2 separate regions of the Homo sapiens genome follow, and region 1 is linked to region 2. The links come from fine-mapping of genetic effects on gene expression. A gene starts in region 2. The other region holds a variant in brackets. All regions are shown on one strand. Distances are from middle to middle. Region 1 overlaps IP6K1 (inositol hexakisphosphate kinase 1). Region 2 holds the start of GMPPB (GDP-mannose pyrophosphorylase B).

Evidence for each region.
Region 1: its variant is fine-mapped to the expression of GMPPB in esophagus mucosa (GTEx, PIP 0.97).

The regions. Positions count from the first base shown.
Region 1 is chr3:49,770,458-49,778,780 of GRCh38, forward strand. All of the region lies in intron 1 of IP6K1 (inositol hexakisphosphate kinase 1), which reads right to left. It also overlaps the pseudogene PHF5AP3. Among named protein-coding and RNA genes, the nearest start is that of IP6K1, 12 kb to the right of the region's middle. The variant G/A (reference allele first, on the strand shown) is at 3,157.
Region 2 is chr3:49,719,333-49,727,646 of GRCh38, forward strand. GMPPB (GDP-mannose pyrophosphorylase B) reads right to left here and starts at 4,619. Exons shown (of 9, transcript NM_021971.4): 1 at 4,266-4,619; 2 at 4,060-4,140; 3 at 3,922-3,970; 4 at 3,640-3,782; 5 at 3,264-3,422; 6 at 3,100-3,178; 7 at 2,899-3,026; 8 at 2,633-2,815; 9 at 584-2,551. The coding sequence starts at 4,394. The coding sequence ends at 2,420. It overlaps RNF123 (ring finger protein 123), which reads left to right. Exons shown (of 39, transcript NM_022064.5): 36 at 1,179-1,321; 37 at 1,468-1,562; 38 at 1,688-1,773; 39 at 1,853-2,197. The coding sequence ends at 1,973. AMIGO3 (adhesion molecule with Ig like domain 3) reads right to left here and starts at 352. Exons shown (of 1, transcript NM_198722.3): 1 at 1-352. The coding sequence starts at 133. It overlaps IP6K1 (inositol hexakisphosphate kinase 1), which reads right to left. Exons shown (of 6, transcript NM_153273.4): 6 at 4,962-8,314. The coding sequence ends at 7,790. RefSeq lists enhancers at 1-125, 487-716, 3,923-4,022 and silencers at 1,711-1,888, 4,663-5,112.

The DNA.
Region 1 (8,323 bases), 51 kb after region 2:
GGGCATGGTGGCTCATACCTATAATACCAGCACTTTGGGAGGCCAAGGTGTGCAGAGCTCACCTGTAGTCTTAGCTACGCGGGAGGCTGAAGTGGGAGAATGGCTTGAGCCCAGGAAGTGGAGGGTGTAGTGAGCGGAGATCATGCCACTGCACTCCAGCCTGGGTGACAGAACCAGACCCTGTCTCAAAAAAAATAAAGTTATATGATTTACACTACCTGACTTCAAGCCTTGCTAGAAATGTCCAACACTTAAGAGGTAGGCAAGGTGTCCTCAGACACTCAGACAGAACACAGAAAGCAATAACCATAACAGAAATTATTGATAAATCGGACTTCATCAAAATTGAAAACCTCTGATTATTTATTTATGAGATGGAGTCTTGATCACACCCGTATTCCTAGCATCTTGTGAGGCCCAGGCAAGAGGAATGCTTGAGGTCAGGAGTTCAGGATCAGCCTGGGCAAATATGCTGAGACCTCCGTTGCTACAAAAAATTTTTAAAAAGAAAATAAGCTGGGCATGGTAGTATGCACATGTAGTCCTAGCTACTAGGGAGGCTGAGGCAGGAGGGTCGTTTAAGCCCAGGAGTTAGAGGGTACACTAAGTTATGATCACGCTACTACACTCCAGCCTGGGCAACAGAGCAAGACCCTGTCTCTAAAAAAACAAAACAAAAAACAAAAAATATAGTATCCAGAATACAAAAAAACTTCCTAAAACTCAGTAACAAAAAAAAAAAAAAAAAAAAAAAACCCTGCCAGGCACAGTGGTGAACACCTATAGTCCCAGCTACTTGAGAGGATGAGGCAGAAGGATCCTTTGAGCCCAGAAGTTCAAGTCCAGCTTGGGCAACATAGGGAGGCCCTATCTCTAAAAGATACATTTCTTTAAAAAATAAAAAAGCCAATTTTAAAAAAAAATGGGCAACAGATTTGAATACATACTTCACAAACGAAGATACACAAAGACCATTAAGTACAGGAAAAGGTGCTCAATATCATTAGCATTCAGGTAAGTGAAAATTAAAACCACAATGAGTTACCACTATACTTTCACCCAAATGGCTAAAATTAAAAACACACTACAACACACTTAATGTTGCTAAATGTGGAACAACCACAACTCTCATACATTACTGGTGAGAGTGTAAAAATGGTACAACCATTTTGGAAAAGGTATTATAGTTTCCTATAAAGCTAAACATACATCTATCCTATGACCCAGCAATTCTAGTCTCTTCAAGAGAAATGAATGTGTATGTCCACACAAAAAACCTTTGCAAAAAAGTTCATAAAAGCTTTACTCATAAGGCAAACACTGGAAACAGCCCAAATATCTATCAACAGAATAAACAAACTGTAGTGTTAATGCAATGAAATACTATATAGCAATAAAAATAAACTACTGATACAGACAACAGCATGTATAAATTAAAACACTACACTGTGTGAAAGAAACCTTACTCAAGAGTGGCCAGGCGTGGTGGCTCACACCTGTAATCCCAACACTTTGCGAGGCCAAAGAGGGAGGATCGCTTGAGCCCAAGAGTTTGAGACCAACCTGGGCAACATGGCAAGACCTCTACAGAAAATTTTTTTAATTAGCTGGGTGCAGCAGTGCACACCTGTAGTCCCAGCTACTTGGGAAGCTGAGGTGGGAAGATCCCTTGAGCCCAAGGTGGGTTCAAGGTGGCAGTGAGCTATAATTGCACCACTGTACTCCAGCCTGGGTGACAAAACAAGACCCTTTCCCTTAAAAAAAAAAATATATATATATATATATGTGTGTGTGTGTGTAACACATATATATGTAATATATATGTTATATAGTCTTCCTTTTTAACTTAATATATTTTATATATATAATATATAGGAAGACTATATAATATATAAAATATATATATATAGAAGGCTATATATACATATATTGTCTTCTTATATTCTAGAGCGTTCTCTTTTTTGAGACAGGGTCTTACTCTGTTACCCAGGCTAAAGTGCAGTGGCACGATCATGATTCACTGCAGCCTCCATCTCCTGGTCTCAAGCAATCCTCCCATCTCAGCCTCTCTAGTAGCTGGGACTATAGGCACATGCTGCCACACCCAGCTAATTTTTTTATTTTTTGTAGAGACAAGGTTTCACCATGTTGCCCAGGCTGGTCTCAAACTCCTGGACTCAAGTGATCCTTCCATCTCAGCCTCCCAAAGTGCTGGGATTACAGGCATGAGCCACCACACCCAGCCTCTCTCTACTTCTGACTAGCCAATTTCTCATTACTCCAGTCTCTGTTACAGTTAATAATTCTTTTTTTTTTTTACATAGAGACAGGGTCTCACTACGTTGCCCAGGCTGGTCTTGAACTCTTGAGCTTTTTTTTTTTTTTAAAGACAGAGTCTCACTCTCACCCAGGCAGGAGTGCAGTGGTATGATCACTGCTCACTGCAGCCTCCAACTCCTATGCTCAAGTGATCCTCCTACCTCAGCCTCCCCAGTTGCTGGAATTTTAGGCATGTCCCACCATGCCCAGCTAATTGTTTATTTTTTGGTAGATAAGCGGGCCTTGCTGGGTTGTCCAGGCTGGTTTTGAACTTCTAAGCTTAACTGATCCTCCTGCCTCAGCCTCTCAAAGTGCTGGAATTACAGGCATGAGCCATTGCACCTGGCCAATTAATAATTTTGTATATAGTCCCAATTCTACCAATGAAAAGTAATACTGTAAACAGTCAAGTTAATATGCTTAAGGGTCCAAGTGGTCCTGCCTGGTACACTCTGCTTCATGAAATTACTCAAACTTAATATGGGCTCCCTGGCACCAAGGTCAGCACTTACTTTAGAGACACCTGCAAAATATGTAAGATAGCCACATACTGGCCGGGCGCGGTGGCTCACGCCTGTAATCCCAGCACTTTGGGAGGCCGAGGTGGGTGGATCACAAGGTCAGGATATCGAGACCATCCTGGCTAACACAGTGAAACCCCATCTCTACTAAAAAATACAAAAAATTAGCTGGGCGTGGTGGCGGGCGCCTGTAGTCCCAGCTACTTAGGAGGCTGAGGCAGGAGAATGGCATGACCCTGGGAGGCGGAGCCTGCAGTGAGCCAGTGAGCCGAGATCGCACCACTGCACTCCAGCCTGGGCAACAGAGCAAGACTCC[G/A]TCTCAAAAATTAATAAATAAAAAAGATAGCCACATATTTTATAATACATCTTCCCAAATAGAGAAGAAGCTTTTTAATATTCATTATATTTTCTATGCTAGTGAACTCACTTTAATTTTTGCTGCACTGTCTCCAGGTAAAGTACCAAAAACAGTAAACCAAAATAGCCTATGTATATCCTGCCTAGCATGCTGCTTGACCCTGATCCATACAACATCTTCAAGTTGAGCATAAGTCTTTATAAATAAGTTTCAGAATATTCACTAGCTAGGCATGGTGGTATACATGGGAGGCTGAGGCAGCAGGATCACTTGAGCCCAGGAATTCGAGACCAGCATGAGTAACATTAGCAAGACTCTCTCTAAAACACACACACACACACACACACACACACACACACACACAACACACACATAAAACCAGAATACTCACCACCAAACCAATTTTTTGTCCGAATTGCAACTATAAAGTCTCCAAATTAGTCAGGGACCATTAAATTTAAATTTGCAGGCCGGGCACAGTGGCTCATGCCTGTAATCCCAGCACTTTGGGAGGCCAAGGCAGGCGGATCATGAGGTTAGGAGGATCGAGAACATCCTGGCTAACATGGTGAAACCCCATCTCTACTAAAAATACAAAAAAAATTAGCCGGGTGCGGTGGCGGGTGCCTGTAGTCCCAGCTACTCGAGAAGCTGAGGCAGGAGAATGGCGTGAACCCAGGAGGTGGAGCTTGCAGTGAGCTGAGATAGTGCCACTGCAGTCCAGCCTGGGCGAAAGAGCTAGACTCCATCTCAAAAAAAAAAAAAAAAAAAAAAGAAAAAAAAAATTTAAGTACTTACATGATCAAATACATATTGAGTATCTACAGAGTAAGACCATGTAGTATATTATTACTAACAAGACAAAAATAATTCCTGCCTTCAGAGAACTGAAAGTCAGTATGGCCCAAGAAGTTAATGGTAAAACAATGAAATATTACAAATTCAGCTATGCATAATAGGTGACCTGTGGAAATGACTTTTAATGGGAGAGGGAATTTAAGGGATGAATACTTATCAACAAAAGCACTGTCTGTGGCTCCCAGACATTAAAGTCTAGAACACTTAGCTAGGGCTCTGACACAAGAAACTATACAGTCAATTCTCATTATTGATGGTAATTATGTTTTATAAAGTCATTGTGTACACTGAGTTATTGAATACTGAGTCACTGCACCTAGACAAAATAAATGGTTAAGTTCCTGTAGGCCTCTGGTCATAATTTCTTTTTTTTTTTGTTTAATAAACTCTCAGCCAGTAGAAGATGATCTAGTCATATTTTCATTAACCAATTAATATACAACCTTCCAGATCTACATACATACAATATAAAACCTTTTAGGTATGTTTCTATTTAAAAACACCTTATTTAATATAAATAACTGATTCATTAACACTGAACTATAGTTAACAGCATTATAACTCATGCCTGAACAAAACTTCCCTACACATTCCTTGTAAGGTAATCAAAGCCTTCTTGTGTTTAAAAACACCAGGCAGCACTTCAATACGTTTGGGGGCCATTTTAAGCATCAAAATCACCAACAAGGCCAGGCGCAGTGGCTAACAACCTGTAAGCAGTCTCGAAAAAATAAAAAAATAGGCTTCTAGCGGCCGGCTTCATTGGGAACTATGGCTAAACATCATCCTAATTTGATCTTTTGCTGCAAGCCAGCTGGTGTTGTCATTGGAAGATTGTGTGAAAAATGTGACAGCAAGTGTGTGATTTGTGACTTTGTGCGTCCCTGCACTCTGGTGTGCTATGTGATGAGTGTAACTACGTATCTTAGCAGGGGTGCCGTGTGATCTGTGGAGGCCCTGGGGTCTCTGGTGCCTATTACTGTAAGGAGTGCACCATCTAGGAGAAGGATAGAGATGGCTGCCCAAAGATTGTCAATTTGGGGAGCTCTAAGACAGACCTCTTCTACGAACACAAAAAAATGCAGCTTCAAGAAGAGGTGATTGGTGGGTGGCCCCTTCCTCCCCACAACATCAAGCTGCTGCAGCGGCTAGAAAAGATGCCTGCTACTCCCGGCAGAAAGGGAGCAGAGCCCAGAGCATCACCAGGAGTGCCTGCTAGTGTCCTGGCAGCTTACCAACCCTCCCCTCCCTTCACCCAGACATGTGGTAGGGATGGAAAAGGATTCTTCACAGAGCACTCTGGCACACTGTATTGGAGAAAAATTGATAGATTAGTTAATGGTTTTTCTTGAATTTGAGAAGCAAAGATCTGTTCTCCATATTGATATGTTCTCCCTCAACCAAGATCTTCTAAGAAATAATATTTTAGTCTTCTGCTTGAGGAGTTGACTGTGAAGCTACACCCAGTGAAAAACATGATCTTGCAGCAGCTCTGGTGGCAGCTGTCCTTGAAGAACCTTTGGTGTATGGTGGGAAGCTATCAGAACAAGAAATGTAGCCATTTACTCTTTTAACACTTGCGCTATTGTCATGTTATTTTCCTTCTGAGAAATTGGAAACCCTTTCTGTTGCTATTACATTAATAAAGTTAGTGTTTATTTTCTGGTAAAATAAATAAAAATGAAAATAAACATTAAAAATCACCAACAAAAAGTAAATCAGGACAGGTGCAGTGGCACACGCGTGTAATCCCAGCACTTTGGGAGGCCGAGATGGGCAGATCACTTGAAGCCAGGAGCTCGAGGCCAGCCTGGACAACATGGTGAAACCTCATCTCTACTAAAAATACAAAAATTAGCCAGGCATGGTGGTGCATGTCTGTAATCCCAACTATTCGCGAGGCTGAGGCAGGAAAATTACTTGAACCTGGGAGGCGGAGGTTGCAGTGAGCCGAGATAGCACCACTGCACTCTAGCCTGGGTGACAGGGCAAGACTCAGTCTCAGTAAAAAAAAAAAGCAAATAAATGCAAAAAACCATGGTACTAAATAGACCAAGAAAAGGACACTTATTTACAGTATGATAATTGAAAAGAAGGCAGCAGCATGTTGCCTTGTTTAACCTCAGCTAGGAACACACAACTCAAAATTTTTGTCACTCTGTGCACATCTATAAATGATAGCAAAAGCACCAAAAGTACTGATTTTGGGGTTACAAGTAAATTTTAGCAGGTCTGCAAACTTGAAAATACAAACTCTGTGAATAATGAGGATCGACTGTATATTAATATGATTCCATTTATGTGAAACTTCTAAGAAACGCAAATTTAATCTACAGTGATAGAAAGATTGGCACCTGTCTGTGTCCAAGAAAGCAGGCTGGGGTTGACTGGAAAGGGAAATAAGAGTACCTTCTATGACTAACTGACATCTTTTCACTGGGCCGGGCACAGTGGCGCATGCCTGTAATCCCAGCACTTGGGGAGGCCAAGGTGGATGGATCACTTGAGGTCAGGAGTTCGAGACAAGCCTGGTCAACATGGCAAAACCCCATCTCTACTAAAAAAATCAAGAATCAGTCCATTGTGGTGGCACATGCCTGTAATCCCTGCTACTCTGGAGGCTGAGGCACAAAAATCACTTGAACCTAGGAGGCGGAGGTTGCAGTGAGCCAAGATGGCACCACTGCACCCCAATCAGGGTGACAGAGCAAGACTCTGTCTCCAAAAACAGAAATCTTTTCAATGAAGTGAAATAGACATCTGTTGGGCCAGGTGCAGTGGTTCATGCCTGTAATCCCAACACCTTGGGAGGCCGAGGTGGATGGATTGCCTGAGGTCAAGAGATCGAAACCATCCTGGCTAACACAGTGAAACCCCATCTCTACTAAAAATACAAAAAATTAGCCGGGCGTGGTGGCACATGCCTGTACTCCCAGCTACTCGGGAGGCTGAGGCAGGAGAATCACTTGAACCTGGGAGGTGGAGGTTACAGTGAGTGGAGATTGCGCCACTGCACTCCAGCCTGTGAGACAGAGCGAGACTCTATCTCAAAAAAAAAAGAAAAAAAGAAAAATTATACCACAATAAAGTTGGAAATTTCTTTAAAAACAATGATAAAGGGCCAGGCGTGGTGGCTCACGCCTGTAATCCCAGCACTTTGGGAAGCCGAGATGGGCGGATCACAAGGTCAGGAGATCGAGACCATCCTGGCTAACATGGTGAAACCTTGTCTCTACTAAAAATACAAAAAAATTAGCCGGGCGTGGTGGCAGGCGCCTGTAGTCCCAGCTACTCGGGAGGCGAAGGCAGGAGAATGGCGTGAACCCGGGAGGCGGAGCTTGCAGTGAGCTGAGATCGCGCCACGCACTCCAGCCTGGGCGACAGAGCGAGACTCTGTGGCAAACAAACAAACAAAAAAAACAATGATAAAGCATAAAGGTCAAAGATCAGAGATCAGCTGGCCATTTCTGGTGTGCAGGGGATTTTCTTTAACAGTGAAATGACTTTTTTTTTTTAAGACGGGGTCTCTCAGCTGGGTGTGGTGGCTCACACCTGTAATCCCAGCACTTTGGGAGGCCAAGGCGAGTGGATCACAAGGTCAGGAGATCGAGACCATCCTGGCCAACATGGTGAAACCCCGTCTGTACTAAAAATACAAAAATTAGCCGAGCGTGCTGGCACATGCCTGTAAATCCCAGCTACTTGGGAGGCTGAGGCAGGAGAATCACTTGAACCCTGGAGGTGGAGGTTGCAGTGAACTGAGATCGCGCCACTGCACTCCAGCCTGGGCAACAAGAGTGAGACTCGGTCTCAAAAAAAAAAAAAAGGCAGGGTCTTGGCAAGGTGTGGTGGCTCATGCCTGTAATCCCGGCATTTTGGGAGGCCAAGGCAGGTGGATGGCTTGAGGTCAGGAGGTCAAGACTAGCCTGGCCAACACGGTGAAACTTCGTCTCTACTAAAAATACAAAAATTAGCTGGGCATGGTGGTAGGTGCCTGTAATCCCAGCTACTCAGGAGGCTGAGGCAGGAAAATCAGTTGAACCTGGGAGGCAGAGGTTGTAGTGAGCCGAGATCGTGCCTCTGCAATCCAGCCTGGGCGACAAAGCGAGACTTCATCTCAAGAAAAAAAAAAGATAGGGTCCCACTCTGTCACCCAGGCTGGAGTGCAGTGGCCCAACCACAGCTCACTGCAGCCTCAAAATCCCAGACACAAGCGATCCTCCCATCTTAGACTCCCCAGTAGCTGGAGTTACAGTCACGCACCACC
Region 2 (8,314 bases):
GCAGGTCGGCAGCGCAGATACATTTGTAGGGGCAGTTGTGGAGCGCACGGGGCGGGAAACCCTCGGAGTCCGGGGTGCCTAACCCAACGCGCAGCATGCAGAGCAGTGTCCCCAGCAGCACCAACCAGGTCATGGCGGCGACCACCAGGGACAGTACAGAGCAGCTCTGTGCAGGTTGCAGTTCCAGGACTCACCCTCTTCTGCTCTAGTGCGACATGGGTGGCACCGGATGGCCCTTGCCGAGGAGGCACGGCGGGTTCTTGCCAGCCGACGGCCCCTACTCTCCGGTTCCCAGGTTGTGAGGCGGTGCGGCACTCTTAGCCGCGCTCCCTTCGGCTTCGCTAGCCCTCTCCAAGCGAGTTCCTGATCGGCTCCTAAATACTCCCCCCAGGGGCGGGGCCCGGGCTCCTATTGGTTCCCGTTTGAGGAGGCGGGGCGGCTACATCCCTTTGTGCCCAATGGCCCCGCATGACCGCCAGATGGGGAGCAAGGCCAACCCCAAAGTCCCCGTCAGCCTTTGGCTGGCAGCTCTCCGCCGCTCGTTTTTCCTCGGGGAGTAAAAGGGGGAGTCTGGAAGAATGTCTCCAAGCTGCTGTTAGTGTTTATTTGAAGTGACTTTGAAGGACTGATAATATTATGGGGCAGGCAGACTCTCACTATCTTAAGGTGGTTCGCCTGAGCCTTCTTAAAGTGGTACCCCAGGCCGGGCGCGGTGGCTCACGCCTGTAATCCCAGCACTTTGGGAAGCCAAGGCAGGTGGATCACCTGAGGTCAGGAATTCGAGACCAGCCTGGCCAACCTGGTGAAACCCTGTCTCTACTAAAAATACAACAATTAGCCGGGCGTGGTGGTGGGCGTCTGCAATTCCAGCTACTCGGGAGGCTAAAGCAGGAGAATCACTTGAACCCGGGAGGTGGAGGTTGCAGTGAGCCGAGATCGTGCCATCGCACTCCAGCCTGGGCAACAGAGCGAGACTCGTCTCAAGAAAAAAAAAAAAAAAACAGGCTGTGTGGCACCTTACTAGAATACAGGACTTGGGGTTTGGGAAGCAGGGAGACGGAAAGGATGCAGGGGGGGTGATCATGTACGAGCCATGGCACTCCTCATTGGCAATCCCAAGAGAGACTTTTAGCCAGGCCCCAAGCCTTCTGACTGCCCTTGCACCCTCCCCTACCTAGGAGAGAGCAAGCCACATCAGTGCTCCTGGCAGATCCCTGCTTCCAGCTACGCTCAATATGCTATCTCCTGGGACAGCCAGAGCCCCCAGCACCTGGCACTGCTCTGCCAGCCCCTGACCGGAAGCGCTTCTCCCTGCAGAGCTGTGAGTGGGCTGGTGGGGCAGGTCAGGGAAATCTGGGGCTGGGTCGGGTCAGGAGCCTTAAGAACAGCAAAGTCCTAGGCTGGGAATATTCAAGAGGCATCACATCCTCAGCTACCTCTGACTTGACACTACCTACCACTCCCCAGATGCGGATTATATCAGTGCCGATGAGCTGGCCCAAGTGGAACAGATGCTGGCGCACCTGACCTCTGCATCTGCCCAGGCAGCAGCTGCCTCCCTGGTGAGTGGGAACACGGTGCACAGGTCCATGCCACTTGAATATGTGTGCACTCCTACACAGGCACAACGGACATCCACATAGCCAGGCATCCAACTCCAGCCCACCCTTCACTCTCCTCCCTGCAGCCCACCAGTGAGGAGGACCTCTGCCCCATCTGCTATGCCCACCCCATCTCTGCTGTGTTCCAGCCCTGTGGCCACAAGTCCTGCAAGTAAGTGGGCCCCACAGCTTGGTGGTGGGGAGAGCAGTAGGTACATGCAGGGCAGTCCTCATCCCCTCCCCTGTTGTAGAGCCTGTATCAACCAGCACCTGATGAACAACAAGGACTGCTTCTTCTGCAAAACCACCATCGTGTCTGTAGAGGACTGGGAGAAGGGAGCCAATACGAGTACTACCTCCTCAGCTGCCTAGCCCTCACAGCCTGTGCCATCCTGGAACCTCCACCTTTGAACCCAGAGCCAGGCTGGGCCCTATTTATGAGCTCCCTTTGCCCTTCTCCTGTATCCCACACCACCACATCCAACCTCCTTGCCTGCCTGTATCCTCATTGGTGGGAGCCCAGCCATGGCCCTAATTGTGCCTGAGCTTGACTTTCAGTCAGGGCCACAGTGAGCATTAAATTATTATTCCATACAGCCCTGGCCCTGGCCCTTCTTGAGGGAGTGGGGTTTGTGGGGTGTGCCCAGCAGGGATCCTGCCAGATGATGTCCACATGAGAAGGCAGGTGTCCAACAGCTTCAGCTTCACCCAGTGCCCCCCAGACAAATAATGACAAGTCCAGGGTCTTCTGATGTGTCAGGCCAGCACTCCCCTTGCTGATGGGAAAACCGGGGCTCGGCCAGCCCCACTGCATCCCCTCACATGATGATACGAGGCTCTGGCACTGACTCGCCAATAGACTTGTGGGGCAGCACGCTGGCTCCGTTGAGGTAGAGCTCATCATTAACTATGACGTCCTCACCCAGCACTGTCACGTTCTCCATGCGTACCTCCAGGAGAGGATAGGCCTTGTCAGGGAGGCAGGCACACTCCCCGCCCCTCTCCCCACCCAGCCCAGCCCACAGGCTTACCCACTGACCCACGCGGCAGCGCCAGCCCACAATGCAGGACTCAAGCCAGGAATGGGAACGGATCCGGGCATCCCGCAGCACCGTGCACCGCCGGATACACACACCATCTTCGACCACCACGCCAGGTCCCAGGCTCACATTGGGGCCAATGCTGCAGTTCTGGCCGATGCGGGCACTTGGGTCCTGAGAGCGGTGGGAAAAATACAAGTGGGCCACTTGTCTCCCAAGACTGAGGGGGTTAATGATGGGCTGGGCAAGGGCCTCACCACCAGCACGTTGCCCACAATGCCAGGGCCTGAGCACAGCCGCTCAGGCTGCTTCTGCCTCAGTGACTGCAGGAAGAGGCACATGCCAGTGAGGAAGTCCTTGGGCTGCCCAATGTCCATCCAGAAGCCTGTAGGGAGGGATGCATCAGGGGCCTCAGCCCAGCCACAGACCACCCCCACCCTGTGGCCTCCCTGCCTCACCCTGTAACTCCATGGCATATAGCTGCCCCTCCTTGGCCATAATGGGGAAGACCTCCTTCTCAATGGACGTAGGCTGCAGCTGTGGGAGTGGGCAGCTTGTGAGCAGGGTCATGGCGGTGATGGCCTGCCCCACCCCAGCCCACCAACAGCTGTCTCCTACACACCTGGATGCGCTGCAGCACTGCAGGGCTCAGGATGTACATGCCTGCGTTGATCTTATTGGACACAAACACCTGTGGCTTCTCCACGAACCGGTGAATGCGGCCTGTGTCAGCCTCACACACCACCACACCGTACTTGGAGGGTTCCTCCACCTTGGTCACCTGAATGCAAGGAAGGGGACCTCGGACCTAGTCCAGTGTTCCTAAGCCTTGATACACATGCCGTTCCAGATCTCAAGAGACTCTGCCCCAAGTGCTTAAAGATACATACTGCACAGCTCTGTATCCATAACATCCGAAGGCAGATGAAGGCTAGGGGGCATGGGAGGCTGGGCATGGAGGGTGAAAGTGTCAAGAGAGAGAAGACCTGGCGCCTTACCAGGATGGAGCCCTCCTGGCCATGGTGCCGGTGGAACTGCACCATGGCTTGGAAGGGGAAATCGCAGATCACGTCACTGTTGAGGACGAAGAAAGGGTCTGCAGTCTCAGAGAGTAGGTCACGGGCCAGCGCCAGGGGCCCAGCTGGGGGAAGGGGACAGGTCACCACCTTGCTGGAGGTCTGAGTCCCTGGATTCAGGCTCAGCAGGCCCACTCCAGGCTGGGTCTTACCCTTTTCCTGGCCTTAAACCCTCCCCCAAGGGACCTTTCTGCCTCTACTGACCTGTCCCCAAAGGCTCCTCTTCATGGGACATGGAGATTCGGATTCCCAGCTGGAAGGAAGAGGCCCCCCCAGTCAGGTTCTACCAGGATGGGAAGTTGGGCGGGGACCGAGAATAAGGGCCAAGAGTCTGTGCCTCACCCTCTGCTCCTGTGCCTTCATTTCCTTCTCCAGCACCTGCGACATGTAGCTCACGGCCAGGATCACGTGGTCCACGCCTGCCTGTCAGAACGCAGGCCGACGGGCGGGCTCAGTCAGAAGGTACGGGAGCCCCTGACCCCTAGTCGCTGGCCATCCCTAGTCCCGCCAGATCCGAACGCGACTCTGATCCCGACCCAGGGTCTTACCGCGGCTAGCGCCTCCACTTGGTGCAGCAAGATGGGCTTATTGCAGAAGTCCACCAGTGGCTTCGGGGTGCTCAGCGTCAGCGGCCGTAGCCGCGTCCCATAGCCCCCCACTAAGATCAGTGCCTTCATCGCGCCTGCGGACGTTGAGGGGGTGTCCCGGGCTCTGAGGTGCCTGCAGCCCGCCTGGCCGGTCCCTGCCGCGCACTCCCAACGCCGTGCCCGGCCCCGCGCCCTTCACCAACCCGCCTGACAGACTCTGGCTCCACCTCGTCCGCCCGGTCGCCCTGACGCCGGATCCAGGGCCGCCACAACACAGAACGCGACACCGGGTAGACGGCTGCTGGCCCCGAACTCAGGCCGGACCCGGCGCGGGCAGTGACGCGACCACCGCGGGCCAATCGGCTGCCGCGTACGTGGCACGGCCGCCGGCGTCGGAACGTTGGAGCGCAGCGCTGCGACAGACGTAGCCAATGAGCGCCCGAGTACGCCGGGCTGCCATGGAGACCCGGGCCGGGACCCGCGGGTCAGCTGGCCATTGGCGGATCCAAAGGCGGAACTGGCGCCAAGGGCGAGGCCTTGTTCCCTGCTTCGCCGCGGTCCAGCAGCCGCCGGCCCCGCCCCACGGCCCCGGCCTCGCCCCGAGGGTGACCAGGGAAGGCTCCCGGGCCACGGGATTTTCACAAAGACAGACTCGCCTCCGTTTCTAGCGGCTTTATTTTTGACATACACGACCTCAGACACAAGCGGGGCGGGCAGCGCTAGGTGTACAGAAAGGAGCGGGCTCGGACCGAGCACCCCCTCCCCCGCACGCAAGGTCCAAAGCAAACGCAACTGCGGCGGGAGCCACCGGCGCAGGCCTCGGGCGGTGGAGACAGGCTTAGCTTCCAGGAAAGAGCAGCAGAGAGCGATTCCCAGAACGCGAGGGCTTACAGTTCCCCGAGAAGCAAAAGAACCAGGTCCTTCCCAGGGTTCTCCATTATTTTTTCCTCATTAAAATATATTTTAAGTCAGCACAAACATAACCAAATTGTACAGCTTTAAAGTTCAAAGCAGTCTGCATCTAGGGAACGTGCATGTGGTCAGGAGTGAGCGCGTGAGCAGCGGCTACGTAACTAGCACAGGTGCCAGGCCCCTTGATGGGAATCCCCATGCTCACTGCACAGGCCCAGAGAGGGAGGGGTGGGGTCCCTGGCAAGTTGCTACACTGGTCCCCTTCCTCTTTTAAGCACCACCCGTCCCACCCCACCCTCAGGGGCTGGTGTCAGCTTGGCCCAGGGAAGCACTATAGAGAGGGCTCACCTGAGCACCCCAACCCATGATCCCATGTTGCACTTTGTTCCCAAGTTGGGGCTAAGAAGGCTGGGCCTGGCAGGGACAGGGCTCTCTGGCATGGGGCAGGGAGAAAGCAGTGGCAGACAGTATGCACACACACTTGCCCACTACCATTAAATAACAGGGCTGGGTCTCCAGGTGTCCAAAGTGCTGAAAAGAGGGGCCCTGCTCTAAGGGAGCAGCAGCAAATCCCAGGCCTTCCCACTCTTTGTAGTGCCAGGAAAATACTGAATGTAAGTGGGTGCAGCTTTGCTCGCTGTGAGGAGCAGCAGAATGCGGCAGCCTCTCCTCCCAGAATCGAGGAATCTGGGAGGCACAGGACATCCCCAAAAGGTCCCAAACAGTTCCAGACCCTATGTCTTACCCTCCACCCTACCAGGGAATGACTATCTACACTAATGAAGGGCTACTGCCCCCATGGCTGAAGCCACAGAATGGTACAGGAGAGAAGACTGTAATTTGTGACCAGAAACAGGCAAGCTGTCCCTCCCAGCCCCAAAGAATGGGAACCTGCCCACCAGTGGCACCAGGGCTGGGGGCTAGGAGAGATGGCATCCATCAAGGAGCCCTTAAGAGGCTGCATCTTTAAGGACCAGGAAATGAGTCCATCAGTTACCAAGGCTTCTCACAGCTGGCAGGCTTACCTTTAAAGCCAAACAGGCACTTGCCTAAAGTGACAATGAACAGTGTGGCCCTAGGCTCAAAGGAGAGGGTGCTAACCTTGGCAATGGCTGAAATCGGTGTCACCTCCTGGCCATCTGTTAGAAGCAGCAGATCTGTGCCATTAAGGGCTGGCAGCCAAAATGACTAAAACCATGAGAAAGGAAGGGTCACTCCTCAAGCCCTCACTGCCCCACTCTAAGGGTTGAGGGCCATATTCTAGGCCCACAGAAATGGTGCTGGGTCAACAGGGAAACACCAATTTATTCTGCTATCAGGTCTTTATAAAAAGGCAACACCTGTGGAGGAAGGGCATGGGGCAAAAGCTCACCTCAGAAGTGGAAGTGTTCTGCTGAGGAAAGCATGAAGGAATGAGTATATACTAATGAACAAGGCTACACCCCAGGGGAAGGATCCCAAGGGACGGGCTGGCAGCCGGACACATGGACAAACTGATGGACCCAGGACTGATCAGACAAAGCTCTCATTAGCAGAATGTGGGCACCTGCACCCAGGGCCCATACCACGTCCCTGTGAGCAAAAAAGCTTAAAGTTCTCCCTCCAGGCCCAGGGCCAAGAGCGCCTCACAAAGGGCTGCTGCCTTGAACTTGGCCTGGGGAAATGAGACCCTGAGCGGACCACAGCCCTTGAGCCCTGGGAGGAGCAGCCCATCCAGCAGCAGCACAGCTGCCGAAACTTGAGGAAGAAGACTCCCACCCATAGCACAAGAACTGCAAATACTGTCTGGGCCAGAGCCACCAGAGGCCCTGAGGCCTGCTAGGACACCGACTATCCCCCACTTCAGTGGGGTGGGAGGGAGTGGCCTTCTTAGGCAAGGGAACTTGGTGAGAGAGGCTGTTTCAGGAATAGGACAGGTGCCAACCTGTCACGTGCCAACAGGTGCCTGGGGAACCCAGGCGCCGCCCTCTGCCATAAGTTGGCCTCAGCCCAGCTTCATTAATCTAGCCCCATGCTAAGGTCAGACCGAAGGATGGGTCCAGCTTTGTGCAGTCAGCCCTGTGGTGCCCTGAGGGCACCTATTAAAGAGCTAGCTGACACCCACAGCATAAGACTGGAAAGCCCCCAAGAAATGGGCACCCAGAGCCCTCTACTTCTGGGGAACAAGGGAAGAGTGGGCGTGGAGGGGCCCTGCACCAGCCCAGGGCTTTACCTTACAATCAGCAGGGCCCTGCAGCCACAGATCTCAAAGATCTAGACAAGAGAAACCAATGTCCAAGGGCACCCTGTCCCTGCTGCCAAGCCCACCAGGGGCACCTCTTCCTTCCTAAGGCAGCCTGGACACACCAGTCAGAGCCACAAAGCTGAGGAGCCTGGCTGAGAGGGCGTGTGGTCTGCCCTCCTTCACTTTATATATATGGATTCCAGGCTACAGCTAAAAACATTTCTTTTAGTTTACACCAAAGAGAAATATAACCCTTTAAAAGCAAGTCTGTGTGTCCTCACGGCAAGTTCAGAACAATGGTCCCTGCCTGCAGTGGAGAGGAAGGGGTTCTGGGGGCCCAGAACAGGGCCTACTGGTTCTCGTCCCGCATCTGTTCCATGATGCTGATGAGGTTCTCCAGGCCAAACACGTAGCCTCTGTCTGGCCCATCATGCACGGTGGGGTCATCCCGGAAGCCCTTGAATGTGCTGTGTGCAAAGTCAATCATGCGGACATCCACCTTGGGCTGAGAGGAGGGACCCGCCTCGGGGCTGGTGTTGCTGGGGCTGGTGCTGGGGCCACAGGATGACGCCACCTCAGGGAGCACCATGTCCAGGTGCTTGAGACGCATCTCAGACCGGCGGTCCAGGCAGGACTCAGCCCGGCACTCCTTGCCATCATAGATGACAAGCAGGGAACTGGAGTAGAAGCGGTAAGAGGCCTGCCGCTCCAGCACAGCTTTCAGGCCCCGCAGTTTGCTCAGGATAGGCTCAAACAGGTCACGTCGCAGGTCCAGGCCATTGTGCAGATATTGATAGAGGGCATTGCGGAAGCCTTCAATGGAGAGCCCACGGCCATAGTACTTGTTCCTGCAGAGGTAATGCCCTGTGTCCAG